3 separate regions of the Homo sapiens genome follow, and all the other regions are linked to region 2. The links come from fine-mapping of genetic effects on gene expression. A gene starts in region 2. Each other region holds a variant in brackets. All regions are shown on one strand. Distances are from middle to middle. Region 1 overlaps ACADS (acyl-CoA dehydrogenase short chain). Region 2 holds the start of MLEC (malectin). Region 3 overlaps XLOC_009911 (a long non-coding RNA gene).

Evidence for each region.
Region 1: its variant is fine-mapped to the expression of MLEC in subcutaneous fat (TwinsUK, PIP 0.95).
Region 3: its variant is fine-mapped to the expression of MLEC in whole blood (INTERVAL, PIP above 0.99).

The regions. Positions count from the first base shown.
Region 1 is chr12:120,729,641-120,737,788 of GRCh38, forward strand. It overlaps ACADS (acyl-CoA dehydrogenase short chain), which reads left to right. Exons shown (of 10, transcript NM_000017.4): 3 at 7,346-7,495; 4 at 7,716-7,827. Among named protein-coding and RNA genes, the nearest start is that of ACADS, 7.9 kb to the left of the region's middle. The variant A/ATT (reference allele first, on the strand shown) is at 5,113.
Region 2 is chr12:120,682,837-120,691,014 of GRCh38, forward strand. It overlaps MLEC (malectin), which reads left to right and starts at 4,313. Exons shown (of 5, transcript NM_014730.4): 1 at 4,313-4,695. The coding sequence starts at 4,461. LOC105370029 (a long non-coding RNA gene) reads right to left here and starts at 4,313. Exons shown (of 3, transcript XR_945449.3): 1 at 4,018-4,313; 2 at 60-169. RefSeq lists silencers at 2,228-2,317, 3,432-3,531, 4,372-4,671 and enhancers at 3,692-3,801, 3,892-4,021, 4,116-4,617.
Region 3 is chr12:120,907,249-120,915,427 of GRCh38, forward strand. XLOC_009911 (a long non-coding RNA gene) reads left to right here. Exons shown (of 2, transcript NR_131215.1): 2 at 407-826. It also overlaps the pseudogene CLIC1P1. Among named protein-coding and RNA genes, the nearest start is that of XLOC_009911, 6.6 kb to the left of the region's middle. RefSeq lists an enhancer at 2,798-2,917. The variant G/A (reference allele first, on the strand shown) is at 4,061.

The sequences.
Region 1 (8,148 bases), 47 kb after region 2:
TCTCTTTTTCAGGAGGCCCTTTAACGAGTGCACATTACCATGGTTATTGCTTTTGTCCCCACTTTTTTTCTAGAATGTTCCTGTAGCTGGCCACAGTTTGTTGCCTGAAATCTAGAGATAAATTTCAGAGTGAGAAGGCCTGGGAAACAGCCCCTGTCACCACTGATAAAATGGGGTGAGGTGACTGTGTCCAGGCTCTGGGATGGGATGGAGAAGGCTGTGCTCTTAGGTGCTGCCCCAGAGCGGTGCTCCTCTCTTTTGAAATTTGCTGTCTCAACACCAGAGTGGGAGTGAGTGGAACTGCCATGTCTTTCACAGCCACAGGTAGATGCTTTATTTTTTAAATTATTTTTGTGTGTGTGTGATGGAGTCTCGCTCTGTCCCCAGGCTGGAGTACAGTGGTGCGATCTCGGCTCACTGTAGCCTTTGCCTCCTGGGTTCAAGCAATTTTCCTGCCTCAGCCTCCCAAGTAGCTGGAACTACAGGTGCGCACCACCACACCCGGCTAATTTTTGTCTTTTTAGTAGAGACGGGGTTTCACCATGTTGGCCAGGCTGGTCTCGAACTCTTGACTTTGTTATCCGCCCGCCTGGGCCTCCCAAAGTTCTGGGATTACAGGCATGAGCCACCGCGCCCAGCTGGTAGATGCTGTAAAAGAAAATGCTGATGGTGAGAAAGGAGGGAAGACAGGAGCTGGGGGAAAATTGAGGGCGATGGTATATGCTAGTGAGGTCCTTTGGGTGTGGGAATTGTGAATTCCTACAACTTTTGATTCTAGCTCATTGAGAAGTGTCGCATTAGTCAGAGGGAGGCGGCGCTGTGTAGGGAGGAGGAGGCTGGGGTTCTGTCTTGCCTCCTGGTGGCCTAGACCTGGCCACTGACACCACATACCCTTTCTGTGTGAATTCCCTCATCTGTAAGAGGAATATGGGGTCACCCTCATTCTGCTACCTGTCGGGACGTGTGACCAAGCATTTTAGGTGAGTATGAGGAACTGAACGCACCTAGGAGAGTTTCATCCTTTTACTCTCTTTCTGGGAATTTGGGTTCCCACTGTGTTTCTGGGGATGAGATGGAGTTATGGAGCGATTGGCTCATGTGCCATTTATTCCAGGGTTTTATACCAACAAGTTCCGGGGTGAAAAGGAGGGTGTGTCTCTGTCCAGGGAGATCTGAAGGTGCTTGGAGGGTGAGGCGGCTTGAGCTAGTTTAGCCTTATTCTGTTTTGCTGGTAAGCTAGAGAAAAAGGCTTTTGGTGAGGTTCATGCCTAGGCCTGACCGTGAGTCTTGGACAACTGCATATTTATTTTTGTTTTTGTTTTTTTGAGACAGGGCCTCACTGTCGCCCAGGCTGGAGTGCAGTGACACAAACACAGCTCACTGCAGCCTTGACCTCCCGGGCTCAGGGCTCAAGTGATCCTCATGCCTCACCTCCTGCAGTAGCTGGGACCACAGGTGTGCACCGCCATGCCTGGCTCATTTATTTTTATTTTTATAACTTTTTGTGGAGATGGGGGTCTCGCCATGTTGATGAAGCTGGTCTCAAACGCCTGGACTCAGATGATCCTCCTACCTCCGTCTCCCAAAGTGCTGGGATTACAGGCCTGAGCTACCACACCCTCTTTTTAAAATTTTTTTAATTAAAAAATTTTCTTTTAGAAACAGGGGTATCATCATGTTGGCCAGGCTGGATTTGAACGCCTGGGCTCAAGTGATTCTCCTGCCTCAACCTCCTCCTGAGTAGCTGGAGACCTGCGTATTTCTAGCACTTGGTAGAGTATTGTCCAGCAGCAGAGGTGTTCCTTAATAAAATAGTTTTTTTTTTTTTTTTTGAGGCGGAGTCTCACTCTGTTGCCCAGGCTGGAGTATAGTGGCACGATCTTGGCTCACTGCAACCTCCACCTCCTGGGTACAAATGATTCTCCTGTCTCAGCCTCCCAAGTAGCTGGGATTATAGGCGCCCACCATCACGCCTGGCTAATTCTTGTATTTATTTTATTTTATTTTATTTTTTTTATTGATCATTCTTGGGTGTTTCTCGCAGAGGGGGATTTGGCAGGGTCATAGGACAATAGTGGAGGGAAGGTCAGCAGATAAACAAGTGAACAAAGGTCTCTGGTTTTCCTAGGCAGAGGACCCTGCGGCCTTCCGCAGTGTTTGTGTCCCTGGGTACTTGAGATTAGGGAGTGGTGATGACTCTTAAGGAGCATGCTGCCTTCAAGCATCTGTTTAACAAAGCACATCTTGCACCGCCCTTAATCCATTTAACCCTGAGTGGATACAGCACATGTTTCAGAGAGCACAGGGTTGGGGGTAAGGTCATAGATCAACAGCATCCCAAGGCAGAAGAATTTTTCTTAGTACAGAACGAAATGAAGTCTCCCATGTCTACTTCTTTCTACACAGACACAGCAACCATCCGATTTCTCAATCTTTTCCCCACCTTTCCCCCTTTTCTATTCCACAAAACTGCCATCGTCATCATGGCCTGTTCTCAATGAGCTGTTGGGTACACCTCCCAGACGGGGTGGTGGCCGGGCAGAGGGGCTCCTCACTTCCCAGTACGGGCGGCCGGGCAGAGGCGCCCCTCACCTCCCGGACGGGGCGGCTGGCCGGGCGGGGGCTGACCCCCACCTCCCTCCCGGACGGGGCGGCTGGCCGGGCGGGGGCTGCCCCCAACCTCCCTCCCGGACGGGGTGGCTGCCGGACGGGGTGGCTGCCGGGCGGAGACGCTCCTCACTTCCCAGACGGGGTGTCTGCTGGGCGGAGGGGCTCCTCACTTCTCAGACGGGGTGGCTGCCAGGCAGAGGGGCTCCTCACTTCTCAGATGGGGTGGCTGCCGGGCGGAGGGGCTCCTCACTTCTCGGGGCGGGCAGGCAGAGACACTCCTCACCTCCCAGACGGGGTGGCGGTCGGGCAGAGACACTCCTCAGTTCCCAGACGGGGTCGCGGCCGGGCAGAGGCGCTCCTCACATCCCAGACGGGGCAGTGGGGCAGAGGCGCTCCCCACATCTCAGACGATGGGCGGCCGGGCAGAGACGCTCCTCACTTCCTAGATGGGATGGCGGCCGGGAAGAGGCGCTCCTCACTTCCCAGACTGGGCAGCCGGGCAGAGGGGCTCCTCACATCCCAGACGATGGGCGGCCAGGCAGAGACGCTCCTCATTTCCCAGACGGGGTGGCGGCCGGGCAGAGACTGCAATCTCGGCACTTTGGGAGGCCAAGGCAGGCGGCTGGGAGGTGGAGGTTGTAGCGAGCTGAGATCAAGCCACTGCACTCCAGCCTGGGCAACATTGAGCACTGAGTGAACGAGACTCCGTCTGCAATCCCGGCACCTCGGGAGGCCAAGGCTGGCAGATCACTCCTGGTTAGGAGCTGGAGACCAGCCTGGCCAACACAGCGAAACCCCGTCTCCACCAAAAAAATACGAAAACCAGTCAGGCGTGGCGGCGCGCGCCTGCAATCGCAGGCACTCGGCAGGCTGAGGCAGGAGAATCAGGCAGGGAGGTTGCAGTGAGCAGAGATGGCGGCAGTACAGTCCAGCTTCGGCTCGGCATCAGAGGGAGACCGTGGAAAGAGAGGGAGAGGGAGACCGGGGGGAGAGGGAGAGGGAGAGGGAGAGGGAGAATCCTTGTATTTTTAGTAGAGACGGGGTTTTACCATGTTGGCCAGGCTGGTCTCGAACTCCTGACCTCAGGTGATCCACCTGCCTCAGCTACCAAAGTGCTGGGAATACAAGCATGAGCCACTGCGCCTGGCAAAGTACTCTGAAGTGTGGGCTAGAAAAGTGTTCTGTTCAGAGGCCATGTGTGTGCTGCCGCAGGTCTGTGTCTCCAGGTCCTCTTCCTAGTGAAAAGCACTCTCTCACTTGGACTTCCCCTTCCCTAGTTGGTTCCTGCCTGCTGAAATGGTGCCTGCTGAAATGGTGCCTGCTGAAATGGTGCCTGCTGAAATGGTGCCTGCTGAAATGGTGCCTATTCTGAGCAGGACCCCCCTCCCCAGGTGTGTGGCGGCCACAGAACAATCTTCTTTTTAGTAATTCTCAAAATGACACCTCCCTGGTAGCTCTGAGTTCCCATTTGTCACTGTGGATGAGTTTCCTATTGCTGCTGTAACAAATGACCACAAACCCTGTGGCTTAAAGCAATACAGATATATTCTCTGACCATTCAAGACCAGCCTGGGCAACATAGCAAGACCCCATCTCTACCAAAAAAAAAAAAAAAAAATAGAAAAAACAAAACCAAACCATGGCAGCCACTTGAGAAATGCTGTTCACGAGTTACTCAACCCGAGTCAGGCATCCAGTGTGGGTCCCACAGGGCTAAATCAAGGCATCGGCAGGACTGAGTTCCCTCTGCAGGCTCTGGGGAAATCCACTCCTGTCTTTCCCAGTTCTAGAGGCCGCCTGCATTCTTCCCGCCAGAGTTCCTGCCTCTGCTTCCGTCGTCACCTCTCCTTCTCTGAGTCTGTGTCTGTCTTTGCCTTACAAAGACTCTGTGATGACACTGGGTGACTCTGATCATCCAGAATAACCCTCACATCTCCAGACGCTTCACTTACGTGTGCAAAGTCCCTATTGCCACGGAAGGGAACATACTCCTGGGACCTGGGATTAGGATGGGGACATCTTGGGCGGTTGCTGTCATGCTGCCTTCCACACACTGGCCATCTCCTTCCCAGCTTCTCTGCCCTCTGACTGCAGCACAGCATCTGCCTGGGGGCCGCAGAGCTTGATGTGCACTTGTGGGGGTCATAGCTCAAGCCTCTCAGCACACACGTTTATGCCCCACATGTGGTACGTGTGGGAGACTCGGAGATGACGCTCCGCCCCGCACTTAGAGTCTTACAAGTGAGTTTCCCATGGGAACAGTTCAAGGAAGAATCAAATAAGCAATTTCACAGAGGGACACACAGGTTGTCACAGAAGTGCTGCAGGCTCCTAGGTGCCCCCTCTTTTCCATACGTTATTGCCAAAGTAAGAACTAGGCTTGGTGTGGTGGCTCGTGCCTCTAATCAGCATGAGGGAGGCTGAGGCAAGAGGATCACTCGAGCCAGGAGTTCGACACCAGCTTGGGCAACACAGTGACACCCTGTCTCTAAAAAAACAATA[A/ATT]TTTTTTTTTTTTTTTTGAGACAGATTCTCGCTCTGTCGCCCAGACTGGAGTGCAGTGGCGTGCTCTCGGTTCACTGCAACCTCTTCCTTCCAGGTTCAAGCAATTCTCCTGCCTCAGCCTCCCGAGTAGCTGGGATTACAGGCACCCGCCACCATGCCTGGCTAGTTTTTATATTTTTGGTAGAGATATGGTTTCACCACGTTGGCCAGGCTGGTCTCGAACTCCTGGCTTCAAATGATCCACCCATTTTGGCCTTCCAAAGTGCTGAGATTCTTTGGGAGGCTGAGGCAGGCGCATCACTTCAGGTCAGAAGTTCGAGAACAGCCTGGCTAATGTGGTGAAACCTGGTCTCTACCAAAAATATAAAAATTAGCCAGGTGTGGTGGCAGGCACCTGTAATCCCAGCTACTCGGGAGGCTGAGGCAGGAGAATCACTTGAACCCAGGAGGTGGAGGTTGCAGTGAGCCGAGACTGTGCCACTGCACTCCAGCCTGGGCAACAAAGTGAGACTCTGTTTCAAAAAAAAAAAAAAAAAAGAAAAAAGAAACAAACAAAGTGCTGGGATTACAGGTGTGAGTCACTGTGCGCAGTCCTTAAAAAAAAAAAAAAAAAAAAAAAAAACAACTTGGCAGCCACTTGATGATAGATGCTGTTCAACAGTACCTCAGCCTGGGCCAGGTGCTGGGCTCTGCCTTTCATGTGTATTATCTCAGTCAGGCCTCAGAACAGTCCTTTGAGGTGAGTACTGTTTTGGGGACGGGGAAGGTAAAACTTTTATATTCACAGGAGTATAGAAAAACAAGAATATATTAGCAAACATTCTTATTAGTTTATGTAAGTCATGGTAGTATAAGAACATGGTTGAGACTAGGTGTGGTGGCTCACACCTGTAATCCCAGCACTTTGGGAGGCCGAGGTGGGTGGATCACGAGGTCGGGAGTTCAAGACCAGCCTGGCCAAGATGGTGAAAACCCGTCTCTACTAAAAATACAAAAATTAGCTGGGCGTGATTATGGGCACCTGTAATCTCAGCTACTCGGTAGGCTGAGGCAGAGAATTGCTTGAACCTGGGAGGAAGAGGTTGCAGTGAGCCGAGATCTGCACTACTGCACTCCAGCCTGGGCAACAGAACAATACTCTGTCACAAAATAAAATAAAATAAAATAAAATAAAATAACATGTTTGCAGGAATGAGATTGTATAAAAGGGCTCGTGAAAAGCAACGGTTCCCTCCCGTCCCCATCCCTGTCCCCGTCCCTGTCCCTGTCCCCGTCCCTGTCCCTGTCCCTGCTCTCCCAGAGATAAGTGGTTTTACTTGTTCCTTTTTGAAGTTAGGTAGATTCTGTGGTCCACATTTCCCATATTACTCACCTGAAAGTAATAATACTATTATTATTATTTTGTTTTTGGTAGAGATGGGGTCTTGCTATGTTGCCCAGACTGGTCTCGAACTCCTGGCCTCAAGCAATCCCCTCACCTTGGTCTCCCAAAGTGCTGGGATTACAGGTGTGATCACTGCTCCTGGCCCACTCTTAATATGATTATTACCCAGAATTAAGAGTCCCAAGCTCTTATCCTTCATTCATTCTCTCACTGGCCTTGGGCATGTAGCAGTGAGCAAGAGCACACACAGTCTGTGCCCTCGTGGTGAAGGCAAAAGACCTTAATCCAGAGAAGCACGTTCATCCCTGAGAAATTCCAGCCGCAGAAGTGCTGCAGGAGAGGGACTGAAGGATTTGACTCAGCGAGGCTGGGGATGGCAGCCCAAAGCAGCGAGGCCTGAGCTGCGATCAGAAGGAGAGGAGGGGCAATAACCAGCTGAGGGATAGGAGGTGGCATGTGCAGAGGCCCTGTGGTGGGGAGGGTGCGTGTGTGTGGATGTGCAGAGGGGGCTGGACGAAGGTCAGTGTGGCTCACGCTGTCCTGCTCCTTACCTCTGAGTTCCCTGAAAGCATCCTGTGCCTTCTGCTTGCTCGCTGCCGTGGCTGTGGACGGAGCGGGGAGCAGGCGTGGAGGCGGGGGCAGGACAGCTTGAATGAGAAGTGCCATCATATAGACCTCAGTGGGACTGGGTCTTCAGCTTCTGGACTTGGGGATCCCTTGTGCGTGGCTGGGGTCACATGGCCTGAGTTTCTGCAGGGCACTGCCTCGGGGGCAGGAGGGTTTGGGCTTGGGGAGGGTGGGCTCGCCCCCGGCAGCTGCCCATGGCGTGCCGTCCTTCCCTGTGCCCAGGTGAAGAAGATGGGCGGGCTTGGGCTTCTGGCCATGGACGTGCCCGAGGAGCTTGGCGGTGCTGGCCTCGATTACCTGGCCTACGCCATCGCCATGGAGGAGATCAGCCGTGGCTGCGCCTCCACCGGAGTCATCATGAGTGTCAACAACGTGAGCCCCCTCCCAGGCCCCTGGGACACACGGGTGGAGGGAGGCTCCCGTGAGCGGGCAGGCTCTGGCCTCGGCTCCCAGCCCTGATCTCTCTGGAGACGTCACAGGCCTTGGTCCTACTGGGTAGGCCCTGGACAGAACAGGCCCTGAGGTGCAGCCCGCAGGTGGGCAGGATGCGCCTGGGCCTGGGGCCTCCGACCGCTCCCCGCTGTCCTCCTAGTCTCTCTACCTGGGGCCCATCTTGAAGTTTGGCTCCAAGGAGCAGAAGCAGGCGTGGGTCACGCCTTTCACCAGTGGTGACAAAATTGGCTGCTTTGCCCTCAGCGAACCAGGTACCTGCCCTGTCCCCTCACCTGTCCTTAGGGTGACAGGCCCAGAGGGGAGGAGAGGAAGGTGCTAGGCCAACTGCCCACTGCTTCGGAGGCCAGAGGGGAGGCTCCCCGTGTGGTTGGTAGGGTGAGCGCTCTTGCCACCGCGGCGCTGGGAGGAAGATTGCCTTCGGGGTCCCCTGGTTTAAGACGCCAGCTCCTGCACACCCCCCTCGCCCTCTGGTCCCATCACTGAGAGCTTTGGGACCCTCATCTTTGGAGCCCGAGTCATAGGGTTTCGTGTCTGCCAGCAGGGGTGTGGAGGGAGTGAGGCTGGTGCCCTTA
Region 2 (8,178 bases):
CGGTTTCTCCATGTTGGTCAGGCTGGTCTTGAACTCCCAACCTCAGGTGATCCACTCACCTCGGCCTTCCAAAGTGCTAGGATTACAGGCGTGAGCCACCGTGCCCGGCCGAGACTTTCATTTCAGAGTAGCAATCGGTTGAGTGCCTTGGCTTGTGCCAGGCATGAATCTGTCAAAAATAAAATCAGATCAAGTTAAAATTTCAGGAGTTGATTGTGCATACAAAGGAAGAGTCTGTGAATCGGGAGATTACAAGATTGGCAAGAAGTCTGAATTGACAGCAGTTGTAGCACAAGAGGAAGTATTTTGACCCTTTACATGATTGGCTGATATATATTTTTTCAAAGGCAAATAGAGCTGCTTAAGCTGGTTTGTCTATGGCTGATTGGTTTAATTCTGTGGAATCATGCTAATAAGGGAAGAAAACTTATTCTTGTGCTTTGTTTATGTTTAGAGTTAGCATTTTGGAAAATCAGGTGCTAAAATTTTGGTTATGTGGCTATGGTGGTTGGTCTCGGAGTATCTAAACAATTGTTTCAGCTCTTTATCAATTCTAATGACTTTATTATATGCATTACCACCTTCTCCTCCTCTTCTTCATGCGGTTTTATTACCTTCTTTAATCCTCACGTCTGCCCTCTGAAATAGAAACTATTCCAGGCCAGGTGCGGTTGTTCACACCTGTAATCCCAGCACTTTGGGAGGCCAAGGCAGGTGGATCACTTGAGGCCAGAAGTTCAAGACCAGGCTGGCCAACATGGAGAAACCCTGTCTCTACTAAAAATACAAAAATTAGCCAGGCATGGTGGTGCATGCCTATAATCCCAGCTATCTGGGAGGCTGAGACACGAGAATTGCTTGAACCCAGGAGGCAGAGGCTGAAGTGAGCCGAGATCATGCCACTGCACTCCAGCCTGGGCAAGAGTGAGACTCTGTCTCAAAAAATAAATAAGTAAAATAAAGTATTCCAGTCATGTGCTACATAACATTTCAGCCAATGACGAACCACATACACGATGATGGTCCCGTGAGATTATAATATTGGCTGGGTGCAGGGGCTTAGGCCTGTAATCCCAGGACTTTGGAAGGTCAAGGCGGGAGGACCGCTTGAGGCCACAAGTTAGAGGCCAGCCTGGACAACATAGTGAGAATCTGTCTCCACAATAAATAAATAAATAAATAAATAAATAAAATTTTGTGTGTGTGTGTGTGTGTGTGTGTGTGTGTATATATATATATATTTTTTTTTTGAGACTGGATCTCACTCTGTCACCCAGGCTAGAGTGCAGTGGTGCGATCTCGGCTCACTGTAACCTCTGCCTCCCGGGTTCAAGCGAGTCTCCTGCCTCGGCCTTCCGAATAGCTGGGATTACAGGTGCGCCCCACCATGCCCAGCTAATTTTTGTATTTTTAGTAGAGACAGGGTTTTTCCATGTTGGTCAGGCTGGTCTCGAACTCCTGGCCTCAAGTGATCCACCCACCTCAGCCTCCCAAAGTGCTGGAATTACAGGCATGGGCCACTAGGCTGGCCAATACTGTGTTTATACTGTATCTGTGTTTAGATACGCAAATACTTACCATTGTGTTCAACTGTCTACAGTATTCAGTAAGGTAACATGCTGTAGAGGTTTGTAGTGTAGGAGCTATCAGCTATACCATATAGCCTAGGTGTATAGCAGGCTATCCCCATCTAGGTTTGTGTAAGTACACTCTGTGATCTCTGCACAATGACAAAATCGCTTAATGATGCATTTTTCAGAACGCATCCCTGTCATTAAGTGACTCATGACTGTATCTCTATTTCACAACTGAGGAAACTGAAACTCAGCGAAGTACATCACTTGCCCAAGGCCACACAGTGGGTAAATGGGACTAGGCATGGGATGCAGGCAGCCTGTCTTAGATCCCACGCTCGGATCCCATACCCTGCCTCCAGGGTCTCAGACTTTACGTTTTACTGAAAAGACAGCCTAATTCATGAGCAGCTGGATCTCAGAAAGGGAGCCAAGCTCCTTGGTACACAGATGGCCCAACCACGAATGGTATCTGAAGGGCTCAATAACAGGAGCCAGCCGGGTATCTTCTTCACCCTCTGGGGTGACCAAAGACACGAAGGACTGAGAGAAAGCCTTTAGAGGCCTCCCCCAAAATTTAATCCGTTTTTGTGATTGTTTCTCCTGGACTAGACTGCCTTGAGGATAAAATAAACATGAGCGCCTGGTGGCAGTGCAATACCTGAGTGGTACGTGGGCTCTGCAGGCCAACTGCCTGGAGGGAGGAAGCCCCATCACCACTACTTGTGTTTCTGTTCCCCATTTGCACCACACCCCTCCTTTGAGGGTAACTGAAGCCTCTGAGTTGTCAAGATCCTTAAAAGATGACAGTTTGAGAGAGAGAATAGTAGAATTAGAAACCCCAAGAGGCCAGGTGTGGTGGCTCACACCTGTAATCCCAGCACTTTGGGAGGCCGCGGACCCCGAGGTCAGGAGATCGAGATCATCCTGGCCAACATGGTGAAACTCGGTCTCTAATAAAAATAAAAAAAACTAGTTGGGTGTGGTGGCGCGCGCCTGTAGTCCCAGCTACTCAGGAGGCTGAGGCAGCAGAATCGCCTAAACCCGGGAGGTGGAGGTTGCCATGAGCCGAGATTGCACCACTGCACTCCAGCCTGGCGACAGAGCAAGACTCTGTCTCCAAAAAAGACAGAAAAAAAAAAAAAAAGAAACACCTTGGACAGGAAACATGTCTATGGGAGGAAGTAAGGCCAGATGCTTGCAAAATAGGGGGGAAAGTGAGACCGGGAGGGAACACTTCCAAAAGTTACCCCCATGGGGTCTGAATTTGGGGCCTGGGAAGGAATTTGGGTGCATTTAGATCCACCACTGATAGTCTCTATTTTGGCACCCTGTTTTGTTCCCGTATAGCACTTACCACTGTTCTAACTAAACAATTAATTTCATTATGGGTTGTGCAAAGTCTATGATTCTCATGCGGGACCCCAGGTGTGTTTTTTGTTCATGTAGCACAAAGCTCATTGCCTAAGTAGTAGGTAGGATTGGTAGATAAAATACAAGAAGTCCAGTTGTTTAAATTTTAATAAACAATGCATTTTTTTTTTTAGTATAAGTGGGTCCCATTTGCTTATCTGAAATTCAAATATAACTGGGCTTCTCCTATTTTATCTGCCAAATCTGACAACCCTGGTAGCAGGGACTTGATACATTTTTTTCCTTTTAGGGAGAATTTCTAAATCGACCAGTATTTATGGAAAATGCATAAGCGTTTTTTTGTTTTTTTTGTTTTTGCCTTGACTCTGCCCTACACTTGCGGTGCGACCCTTTGGCAAAATTCAGTCCCTTTCTATGCCTCAGTTTCCCCATCGGAAAAATGGGAGTTTGAACAGCGACCGAAGCGCAGGGATCGCCAGTGTGGGAGAGCGCCAGGTGAACTGTGAAGGAGCAGGGAGGGAGTTCGGGCCGTGCCCGTGCGGGACAACCCCGGTATCCACTCTGGGCACCGCCGGCGGCGACTCCCGCCAGCGCCTAGGGTGCCTCGGTCCCGCCCCTACGCAGCGGAGGCCGGCCAGAGGCCGTCGCCATGGAGACGCGAGCAGCCTGGCACCCACTCGCTCTCAAAGCCACGCGTTTCCGCTGCGTTGGAGCCTTCTCATTGGACGGCCGTCTGGACGCTACCACCCGCCCCGAGCCCGCTAAGGGGAGGGGGCGGGGCCTTATTCTCATGGGATTCGTTCCCTGGAGACCTGTGTCCGCGGCCTCTCTGGGAAAGCATGGGTCCTCTCCCTCACGCGGGGAAAAGGACTGCGTCTCTTAGGTCTGGAGAGTGTCCATTGCTTCTCCTACTAGAATTTATGCTCATGCTGCTCCCTGAGAAAAGAAGAGGGGGCGGGAAAGTCGGCCACGCCCCCTCCAGAGCCTATTTGGTCTCAGGAGCTAGAGCACCGGAAGTGCTGGCGACATGTCAGTGCGCCCTACCCTAAACCTTCCCCCCCCAGGCCACCTTTCCCATTCAGCTGTGGGATTCCGGGGCCGCCTGGGCGCTGCACCCGCCACTTCCGCATCGAACCGCCGCTTCAACCGAACTCACTCCCTCTGCGCGCGCTCCATCTGGTGCCCGACTGCTGGGCCGGCGCCTGGGAGAAGCCACGCCCTTTCCCGCGCCTGACAGCCAATGAGCGGGCGCCTCCCGGCGGGGTGGTGGGTAATTAATGAGGGCCGGGCGCTGATTGGCTGCAGCGTCGTGGCCGGGGGCAGGGCGGCGGGGTAGGTTGTTCCTGAGGTGGGAGGCGGTACCCGTGGCTGAGAAGAAGGAGGCCTGAGAGCGACATGTCCCCGGCGGCTCAGGCGGAGCGGCCCGTGGCGCTGTTTTTCTGAGTCCGGGGTGGCCTGGCAGCCGGCCGAGGACGAGGGTCGGCGGGGGCTGCCCCCGTGGTGGTGGCCGCCATGCTGGGAGCCTGGGCGGTTGAGGGAACCGCTGTGGCGCTCCTGCGACTGCTGCTGCTGCTGCTGCCGCCGGCGATCCGGGGACCCGGGCTCGGCGTGGCCGGCGTGGCCGGCGCGGCGGGGGCCGGGCTGCCCGAGAGCGTCATTTGGGCGGTCAACGCGGGTGGAGAGGCGCATGTGGACGTGCACGGGATCCACTTCCGCAAGGACCCTTTGGAAGGCCGGGTGGGCCGAGGTGAGAGTCCCCCTGCCGAGCCGCGGGATCCAGGGCCTGCTGTGCTGGGCGCAGCCGGCCGGGGGCTGCGGGCCCCGAGCCCCTTTCGACCCTGGGGCCGCGTCTCTGGAGCGAAGTTTCTCTCTGCAGCTTCTTCGGGGGCCCGCTCTGAGCTCAGGGCCTGGCACTGGCTCCAAGGTACCTAGAGTCATACAGGCAGAGAGTTGGCCAGAAGTTAGTTATATTTGGATTTCTCATCCTGCATTTTCTCAACCCCTCACTCCCATCCAAGCTGGGAGAGAAATGACGAAGGCGGCCTTTTGCTACCTCCAGGCCTCGCGGGTTGTAGGTCATGGGTGCCCCTGCTTCTCCTGTCGAGACAGTTCTTGGGAGATTCTCGTCGACCCAGGAATCGGCCGCTTTCCTTGCCCCTTCTGCAGGAGCGGGGCTTGATTCTTAGCCAGAATAGGAAGGAATCTTCGAAGAGAATGGGCCAGGAAAGTTTGATTGTAGCCTCCTCCCCCGCCCTCTTTTCGAGCGAAGAATATGTGTGCTTAAAAGTAGAATCGGCAGGCCGCCCCCAGAGGGTGGTTCTATCGAAGCCATCCTGCACGTGAGGCTGGTGGCTGTGTGTGAACTGGGTCAACCAGTGTAAGAATCCGAATGGTCTATCAGAGAATGCTTACAACCTCCCCTAGGTGATCCTGAGAGTTCTAATTCCAGCTTAGGGGGAAAATGATTGTGACTTAACTTGCTGGGCAACAGTGGTTTTTAACGGAGCTGCTCCCTTCCCAAAGTTAGTGTGTGTCAGAATTGCCAGGGCAGCTGGTTAAAAATGCAGATTCCTAGTCCCCACTCGAAATTGATTATAGTAGATTGAGCTTTTTTGCTGGGATCCAGGTTTCTGCACCAGGGGCTTGTGATGTAGGTTGCCCCGAGACCACCGTTTTGGAAGATCAGCTTTATAATCTTTGTTTCTTCTGTTGGAGGGATTGGAAAACAGGTTTCAGAAGGAAGTTCTTTGCTAGGAGATTGATACTGTATGCTGGGTTCAGAGGCTACCAAATTGGCAGTATGCCACCTCCAGACAACCAGGAGACAGACTCACTCTTCACTTTCTCTCATTCTTTTTCTGCGATGCCCAGATTTGGCTCTTGCTTTTACTAAAATAGTTAGTTCTTCCCAAGTCGATTGCAGTGTCCTGGAGTTTGTTATATTAAGGAGTTTATTGCCTTTCACACATGTGAGGGTCTTGGGACACAGGGCTGTTTTGTGAAGTTCTATGTTTGTCTTGGAGTTTGTTGAGCCCTGGCATGTAGATCACAGTAGCCTGGGTTCAGCTGACTCAGGGCTCCAGTCTTTAGCAGCGGTAACAGCAGCCAAAGCCAGACTTTATAGCAGGAGGTCATTACTATCTCTATCCTGGACCCTTCCTCTTTCTTCACGAGTGTGGGCAGGGAGGAAAGAGCCCTTGAGGAAACTAGACAGTTTGTGGACTTTGCCTCTTGAGATAGCGGTGGTGAGGGTGCTGAGCGGATGGTTTCTTTCACTTAGCAGATACCAGGCCTTACATTGGTTACATCGTCCTATTCAGTCTGTTGTGCAGAGAATAAAGCCGAGTAAGACCACACAGGTTTAGTTCCCAGATACTGCCCTTATTCAGAAATTCTGGTTTTAATTTGCTGATGCAGGTGGTGTGTGTGTGTGTGTGTGTGTGTGTGTGTTTCTTTGGCTTGGTCAGCAGTCAGCCAAGATCTGTGTCCTTGGGTTATTGGCTCATGGTTGCAGTTCCTTGGAAGGAGTTTATTGTAGCAGGTAAAATTACATGAGACCTACCAAAGCTTGTGTGTACTGGAGTCCTATTTCGGACACTGGCCCTTGGGGCATTGTATAAATGAAGGTTCCCTGCTAAGGTTCCCCTCTCCATTCTACCAATCTGGGTAAGAATTGGAGCAGTATTAAGGCATGGATGGGGAGTGGGAGGTGGCGCTTGTCAGCTGCAGTTTGGACCAGCTTGTTGCAACATTGCGCTTACCAGGTTCCTGAGAAAGGCATTTTGCTGGCTTTAGGTCGGGCTGAGATGCGCATAAGCTTGCACTCTCAGGAGGCAGCTCTCTACTAAGGAGTCAGTCCTACCAAGGGAAGTCCAGCTGTTCACACTGCCTTTCTTCTGGGCCTGTTTGGATAAGGGTGTGCCAGGTATTTGAAGACCCTTGCCTCGTGCAGCTATTTACACTGATTGCAGTAGGAACTGTATGCCTTATTTCTTTTCCCGCCTGCCTGTGATATTGTTTCCAGCATGCTGAGAAAAGTTGATTTTATGTTGAATGAATTCAGGTATTTGTTACCAAGTTAGTCCAGATAAGGGTTTGGCCTTCTTTTGAACTTGCTGTTTCTGTGTAGTTTCTTTGTAGTTCAACATTCTTGTAATTGTGAGTGGCCCAGGGCACCTAGTGGTTTATGCTTTCAAAAGCAGTTCAGAATATTTATTGAATTTCATTTCTGCCTTGAGGATAGCTAGTGCTTACAGCCTGGGAAAGGCTTTTTCAGCCTGTGTGCTTCCACAGATGGGAGCACCACTACAGAAAGTGGTTTAGAAGCGTTCACCTTGGGGTTTTGGTATGAGGCACATTCCAGGGTTTTTATTTATTTATTGAAAATTTTTAATTTTTTTTTTATTGTAGACACAGGGGTCTCACTATGTTGCCCAGGCTGGTCTTGAACTTCTGTCCTCAAGTGATCTTCCCACCTTGGCCTCCCAAACTGCTGGGATTACAGGCATGAACCATCACGCCTGACCATGTTCCAGATTTGTAACTTGGTCATTTTGAGTTCCTCTTCACTCTGACTAGGAAAAGACCTGGTTATTTGACCTGAGGGCACAGAATTTTGCTTGAGTTTAGGGAAGGCTATTTCCTCTTCAGAGAAAGATACCTGCTAAAGTCGCAGGTCCTCGAGAAACTTGCTTTACGTCTCTGAGCCTTGTTTTCCTTTTCAAAAAATCTCTCATGCTTTAGAAATTTCTGATAAGACTGTAAACTCTCCTGTCCAGAGTAGCTTGAAGTGTCTCTGTCACTTTTTTTTTCCTTGATGACCTTTTACATGGAATTAAAAATAGGGCAGAACATAGCTCCAGAGGGGAAAAAAGTTGGTTGGGGACCAGAGCCTATCAGGTTGCTAATGCTGTAACCTTAAGGAATACCCTTTCCTGGGCTGCCTTCCTTTCACCTGGGGAAGGATTTGGCTTTGGGGAGGTAAGAGCTTGAAACATGGGATGAGAGAGGAGTCACTGCTACCTCTGATTTGCTCAAAGCCATGGCAGTTGTTTAGAATTCTCTACCTCTACTGTCACCTAACAGGCAGGCTTCATCTGCAGGCCTTCCAAATAGTGGAAGTTCACAGGTAGAAAATTTAGGTCCCTGAATCCGTGGGTTCGCTGTCTCAGCCCATTCAGAACAATTCTTTAGGTACTGGCCTCACTGGAGAAAGAAGTGATCCAGAAGA
Region 3 (8,179 bases), 220 kb after region 2:
CGCAGTCATTCTGAGTTTCAAAGGGGCACAGAGTGAGGCTTTAGGTCCCATGGGAAAGGCCAGAAGCCGTTGGAAGTGGCTTTGGGTGATGCAGAAGCTTTTTCTTTGGAGAGCTAAGAACAAAACAGACCAGACATGTCACTTTTGAAACGAAAATGCCACACTGAGCCTCTGGGCGATTCACTTGGGCTTTGGTTCCCAGTGAGTCATAGAAGTCAAAGCCAAGTGGAAAGTTGGTGTTGGATGAATGAAACGGGAGCTGCTAGAGTAGGAAAGTCAAGGCCTTCCCAGAAGCAAAGGGACCATTCTTTTCAGTGGGAAAAATCTGGTGGAAGAAAGGAGGGAGAAGGGGTTTGGTGAAGGTATGGTGAATGAGGAGAGGTTTTCTTCTCTCTATCTGAACCAGAGACCTCCGAAGTGTTTCTTGAGGAAATGTGGCTGCAGACCCTAGAAGAAGCTACACAGCACTTGCCAGGGCTGGGATGATGTCCAGGCCATGGAAACACCGTGTACCTGGTCCCAGGAAGATGAAGTGTGGGCCCAGAGACTAATGGCTTGAGCATCTCAGGCTAAGGTTGCCGAGAAGTAGACAGCACCTCTAGATCCTAGTCAACATCTCTACAGGCTTGAAGTCTCCCCAGAGGGCAAGGTTGGAATAAATCTGAAGCCTGTGGCTTGCCTGGGAGCTGCCCAGACTGTGGCATCTGGGGAGTGACTTTTTAATTTTAATTTTATTTTGAGACAGAGTCTTGCTCTGTCACACGGCTGGAGTGCAGTGGCGCAATCTCAGCTCACTGAAACCTCCACCTCCTGGGTTCAAGCCATTCTACTGACTCAGCCTCCCAAGCAGCTCGGATTACAGGCACCCACCACCATGCCCAGCTATTTTTCGTATTTTTAGTAGAGACGGGGTTTCACCATGTTGGCCAGGATGGTCTCGAACTCCTGAGCTCAGGCAATCTGCCCACCTTGGTCTCCCAAAGTGCTAGGATTATAGGCGTCAGCCACCGCACCCGACTGGGAGTGACTTTTAGTCTCCCTGCCAGCAGCACTCAGCTCCAAGCTATAGCAGCCCCAGGTGTATCTGTGACACCTTTGGGCCTCAGCCAGGGAGTCAGGTGTGCTTCACAAGAGACTCAGGCATTAGGCTCCCCCAGGAGGGGTGCTTTGTCTCTCTGCACCCCACTGCAGGTGAGAGCGCTACAGCTTGTGCAATATTTGCTGAAAGAAGCCATGGAGGCTGGGTGCGGTGGCTCATGCCTGTAATCCCAGCACACTGGGAGGCCTAGGCGGGCAGATCACCTGAGGTCGGGAGTTCAAGACCAGCCTGGCCAACATGGAGAAACCCCATCCCTACTAAAAATACAAAAATTAGCCGGGTGGTAGTGGCACATGCCTGCAATCCCAGCTACTCGGGAGGCTGAGGCAGGAGAATCGCTTGAACCCGGGAGGCGGAGGTTGCGGTGAGCCGAGATCGTGCCACTGCACTCCAGCCTGAGCAACAAGAGCGAAACTCCGAAACGCCGTCTCAAAAAAAAAAAAAGAAAGAAAGAGGCCATGCAGGTGCCTCTAATTATCACCACAGTAATTATAGGATAGCTTCTTCCACCAAGTGTGTTCAAAAGAGACTTGGGGAGTCTCCCCCAGGATGGGTCCTCTGCTTTAGGCACAGACTCCAGGAAGCTGGCATTACAAGGTCTGTCTGGGCTGCTTAAGCATTGTTTCTGAGAACATCAAGGCTTAGGTCTGACCTGGCTCTACCAGTCCCTCCAGGCCATTTCTCCCCTCTGTCATCCACCCCTCGCCCCCACACACATGCATGTGCACTTTGTTTATATTCCATAGTGACCTGCTTGTAGCTTCCCCACGGGCTGTGTTCTTTTTTGCTTCCAATCCTCTGATCAAGTCCAGGAGGTTTCCCATTGGGTCTTTCTTTTTTTTTTTTTTTTTAGACAAAGTATCACTCTGTCGCCGAGGCTGGTGTGCAGTGGCGCCATCTCAGCTCACTGCAACTTTCGCCTCCTGGGTTCAAGTGATTCTCCTGCTTCAGCCTCCCGAGTAGCTGGGATTACAGTTGCCCACCACTACCATGCCCAGCTAATTTTTTTTTGTATTTTTAGTGGAGACGACTTTGGCCATGTTGGCCAGGCTGGTCTCAAACTCCTGATCTCAAGTGATCCACCCATCTTTGCCTCCCAAAGCGCTGGAATTACAGGTGTGGGCCGCAGCGCCCGGCCTCCCATTGCCTCTTAACTGCTGCTTATAGTTTTCGGGGCTTGACTGCAATGTCACATCCTCCAGGAAATCTCACTTGACCAAAACCTAGGCTGGGTTAGATACTTCTCTGCATTCTCATTGTCCTCTGAATTTACCCACATGACACTTGGCATAATGAACTGTCATCGACTGTTTACTTGTCAGTTTCTCCCTTAGCTTGTGAATGCTTCTTGGGAAGGGATTGTAACTGGCTGCCAGTTATATCCTGTGTGCCCAGCAGAGAGATTAGCCCAGAATAGAAGCTCAGTGTCTGTAGAATGAATGTTTGAGTGAAGGGGAAGGCAAGCCAGGATCCAGAACAACTTGTTTTGCCTGATGTCATACTCAACACCCACTTCTGTCCTCTGTAACTCCCTCCTTGACTAAGAGTGAGAGTTCTTAAGGGGAGAGAGATACGGGAAGACAGATCAGAAGTAAGGTATATGGTGAGCTTATCAGACACAGGGTCACTTGCATTCTTTGAACATGGGTTTTCAGAAAACGTTTTTTAGAGAAGTTTCAGGCTTACAGAAAAATTGATGGGAAAGTACAGAGAGTTCCCATATAGGCCTCTCCCTCCAGTAAATCTCCCCTATTAATCACATGGTATATTAGTGTAAGTACATTTGTTACAGTTGATGAGCCAATAATGAGATTAGGTTTTACTCTTCATGTTGTATAGTCTACGGGCTTTGACAAATACACTATGGTATGTAACCACCATTATAATGTCATACGGAATAGTTTCACAGCCCCAGAAATCTCCCACCCTCTGCCTATTCATCCCTCCCTCCCCATCAAATTCTGGCAACCACGGATCTTTTTACTGTCTGCATAGTTTTGCCTATTCCAGAATGTCCTATCATTGGAATCATACAGCGTGTAGCCTTTTCAGGCTGGCTTTTCACGTAGCAGTATACTTTTGATATTTTTCCATGTCTTTTCGTGGCTTGATAGCTCATTTCTTTTTATTGCTGAATAATATTCCATTGTATGAATGTACCAGAGTTCGTTTATCCCTTCACCTATTGAAGGACACTTTGGTTGCTTCCAACTTTTGGCAAGTATGAATAAAGCAGCTCTCAAGGTTTGTGTGCAGGTTTCATGTGGACATGTTTTCAATTTATTTGGGTATACCATGGATACTATGTATTTTTTGGAAGAATCTTGTTTAATTTCCAAATACTTGGGGCTTTCCTGGATATCTTCTTTGTTGTTGATGTTAATTGAATTCTGTTGTGGTCAGAGAATATATTCTGTAAGATTTCAGTCTTCTGAAGCTTATTGGAACTTGTTTATAGCCAACATATGGTTTATTGCAGTGACTATTCCAGGTGCACTTTAGAAGAATTCTATTATTTCGGGGTGCGGTGTTCTATAATAGTCAACTAATTCAAGGTGGCTGATAATGTTGTTCAGATATTCTATGTCCTTACTGATTTTTTTGTCTAGCAGCTCAATTATTTAGAGATAAGTAAATTTCTAATTATGAATTTACTTCTTCATTTAATTATATCAATTTTTCCTTTATGTATTTGGAACTATGATTAGGTTGATACTTAAAATTGTTATATCTTCTTAATGAAGTGCCCCTTTTATCATTATGAAATACCTGTCTTATGTTCTTAGTTTTGAAGTCTACTTTATCTGATATTAATATAGCTTTCTTATGATGTGTGTTTTTATTTTAGATCATTTTTCCAACCTTTTACTGTCAACCTCAGTGTGGGTTTGTATTTAAAGTATGTGCCAGCTGGGCGTGGTGGCTCATGCCTGTAATCCCAGCACTTTGGGAGGCCAAGGC[G/A]GGTGGATCACGAGGTCAGGAGATGGAGACCACCCTGGCTAACATGGTGAAACCCCTTCTCTACTAAAAAAATACAAAAAAAAAATTAGCCAGGCGTGGCCGGTGACTGTAGTCACCGGTACTCAGGAGGCTGAGGCAGGAGAATGGTGTGAACAAGGGAGAAGGAGCTTGCAGTGAGCCAAGATCGCGCCACTGCACTCCACCCTGGGAGACAGAGCGAGACTCCGTCTCAAAAAAAAAAAAAAAATAATAATAATAAAGTATGTGCCGGCTGGGCGTGGTGGCTCACGCCTGTAAACCTAGCAGTTTGGGAGGCTGAGGCGGGCGGATTGTCTGAGCTCAGGAGTTCAAGACCAGCCTGGGCAACACGGTGAAACCCCGTCTCTACTAAAACACACAAAAAAATTAGCCAGGTGTGGTGGCGCATGCCTGTAGTCCCAGCTACTCGGGAAGCTGAAGCAGGAGAATTGCTTGAACCTGGGAGGCAGAGGTTGCAGTGAGCCCAGATCACGCCACTGCACTCAGCCTGGGCAACAGAGTGAGACTCTATGAAAAAATAAAACAAAAATAAGTAAATAAATTTATGTGCCTTAGGCCAGGCGCGATGGCTCATACCTGTAATCCCAGCACTTTGGGAGGCCAAGGAGGCAGATCACCTGAGGTCAGGAGTTCGAGACCAGCCTGGCCAATGTGGTGAAACTCTGTCTCTACAAAAATACAAAAATTAGCCGGGGGTAGTGGCATGCACCTGTAATCCCAGCTACTAGGAAGGCGGAGGCAGGAGAATCGCTTGAATGCAGGAAGTGGAGGTTGCAGTGAGCCAAAATGGTGCCACTGCACTCCAGCCTGGGCAACAGAGTGAGACTGTCTAAAAAAAATAAATAAATAAAACTTTTTAAAAAGTATGTGCCTCGTAGATAGCATATGCTTATATATTCTTCTTTGCTCTGCCTGACCATTTCTTTTTCTTTCTTTCTTTCTTTCGTTTTTTTTTTTCAAGACAGAGTCTCACTCTGTCCCCCAGGCTGGAGTACAGTGGTGCAATCTCAGCTCACTCCAATTTCTACCTCCCGGGTTCAAGCCACTCTCCTGCCTCAGCCACATGAGTAGCTGGAATTACAGGCGCCTGCCACCACGCCCGGGTAATTTTTGTACTTTTAGTAGAGACAGGGTTTCTCCATGTTGGCCAGGCTGGTCTTGAACTTCTGACCTCAGGTGATCCACCTTCCTCAGCCTCAGCCTCAGCCTCCCAAAGTACTGAGATTACAGGCATAAGCCACAGTGCCCGGCTCCTGCCTAACCATTTCTGTGTTTTAATTAGAATATTTATTTCATTTACATTTGATGTAATTGTTGATGTGTTTAGGTTTGGTTCTGCCATTTTGCTATTTGTTTTCTACTCATTCCATCTTTTTTGTTGTTGTTCCTCTGTTTCTCCTTTCCTACCTTCTTTTGAGTTAACTGAGTAATTTTTTATGATTATATTTTAATATCTCTACTGGCTTTTTTCTTTTTTGAGACAGAGTCTTGCTCTTGTTGCCCAGGCTGGAGTGCAGTGGTGCAATCTCGGCTCTCTGTAACCTCTGCCTGCTGGGTTCCAGAAGTTCTCCTTCCTCAGCCCCCTGAGTAGCTGGGATTACAGGCACACGCTGCCACACCCAGCTAATCTTTTGTATTTTAGTAGAGATGGGTTTTCACCATGTTGCTCAGGCTGGTCTCAAACTCCTGAGTTCAGGCAGTCCACCTGCCTTGGCCTCCCAAAGTGCTGGGATTACAGGTGTGAGCCACTGCCCCCGGCTTTACTGGCTTTTTTAAAGCTGTACCCTCGTTAAATTGTAGTCGAAGTGGCTGCTGTAGTGAGTGTGAATCTCATGAGCTTTAACTTATCACAATCTACTTAAAATTGTTATTATTATTATTATTTTATTTTATTTTATTTTTTTTGAGAAAGAGTCTTCCTCTGTCGCCCAGGCTGGAGTGCCATGGCACGATCTTGGCTCACTGCAAGCTCCACCTTCCAGGTTCAAGCGATTCTCCTGCCTCAGCTTCCCGAGTAGCTGGGACTACAGGTGCCCACCACCACCCCTGGCTAATTTTTTGTATTTTTAGTATAGCCAGGATGGTCTCGGTCTCTTGATCTCGTGATCCGCCCGCCTCGGCCTCCCAAAGTGCTGGGATTACAGGCGTGAGCCACCGCGCCCGGCCTATTTATTATTATTATTATTATTATTATTATTATTATTATTATCATGTTTGAGCTGGAGTCTCACCCTGTCACCCAGGCTGGAGGGCAGTGGTTCCATCTCGGTTCACTACAACCTCCGCCTCCTGGGTTCAAGTGATTCTCATGCCTCAGGCTTCCAAGTAGCTGGGATTATAGGCACGTACCACCACGCCCAGCTAATTTTTGTATTTTTAGTAGAGACAGGGTTTCACCATGTCGGCCAGGCTGGTCTTGAACTCTTGACCTCAAGTGATCCATCCATGTCGGCTTCCCAAAGTGTTGGGATTATGGAAGTGAGCCAGTGCGTCCAGCCCACAATCTACTTAAAATTAATATTGTACTATTTCCCATAAAATGTAGGAACTTTGCACAATATCGTTCCATTTATTTCCATGTCCACCCTCTTTTGTTGTTCTTATTATATAAATGACATCTGTTATAAACCCCACAATACAATGTCATAACTTTAGCTCTTAAATAGCCACATCTGTCAGTGTGCCTATATGATTAAAAAAAAAAAAAAAAAAAAAGGAAGGCCCAGGTACGGTGGCTCACACCTGTAATCCCAGCACTTTGGGAGGCCCAGGCGGGTGGATCACGAGGTCAGGAGTTCAAGACCAGCCTGACCAACATGGTGAAACCCCATCTCTACTAATAATAGAAAAATTAGCTGGGCATGGTGGCACGTGCCTGTAATCCTAGCTACTCAGGAGGCTGAGGCAGGAGAATTGCTTGAACCGGGACCCGGGAGGTGGAGGTAGCAGTGAGCCAAGATCGCACCACTGCACTCCAGCCTGGGTCCAGCCTGGGCTACAGAGCAAGACTCTGTCTCAAAAAAAAAAAAAAAAAAAAAAAAAGGGACGCAACCACGGCGGAAGAACAACTGCCAGTCTAACTGTGCGTGAAGGCTGGCAGTGATGGGGCCGAGACTGGGAACCGCCCCTTCTCCCTGAGACTGTTCATAGTGCTGTGGGTCACAGGAGTCACCTTCAACGTTACCACCATTGACACCAAGAGACAGACTGAGAGAGTGCAGAAGCTGTGCCCAGGAGGGCAGCTCCCATTCCTGCTGCATGGCACTGAAGTGCACACAGACACCAACAAGATGGTGGAATTTCTGGAGGCAGTACTGTGCCCTCCGAGATACCCCAAGCTGGCAGCTCTGAACCCTGAGTCCAACACAGCTGGGCTGGACATATTTGCCAAATTTTCTGCCTACATCAAGAATTCAAACCCAGCACTCAATGATAATCTGCAGAAGGGACTCCTGGAAGCCCTGAAGGTTTTAGACAATTACTTAACATCCCCCCTCCCAAAAGAAGTAGATGAAACCAGTGCTGAAGATGAGGGCATCTCGCAGAGGAAGTTTCTGAATGGCAATGAGCTCACCCTGGCTGACTGCAACCTGTTGCCAAAGCTACACATAGTACAGGTGGTGTGTAAGAAGTACCGGGGATTTAACATCCCTGAGGCCTTCCCGGGAACGCGTCAGCACTTGAGCAATGCTTATGCATGGGAAGAACCCGTCTCCACCTGCCCAGATGATGAAGAGATCCAGCTCGCCTATGAGCAAGGGGCCAATGCCCTCAAATAAGCCCCTCCTGGGACTCCCTCAACCCCCTCCATTTTCTCCACAAAAGCCCTGGTGGTTTCCATATTGCAACCCAATGGACACACTCCAAAATGGCCAGTGGACAGGGAATCCTGGAAGACTTGTTCTGGGATGGTGTGGGGAAGAGGGGATGAGGGAAATAAATGGGGGGCTGGGTGAGATTTTTATTGTGGGGTGGGATGGGCAGGACAACATATTTCAGTAATAAAATAGAGAAAAAAATGAAAAAATAAATAAACAGCCGCATCTGTTAAAGAAATAAAGAAAAAATGTAAATACAATT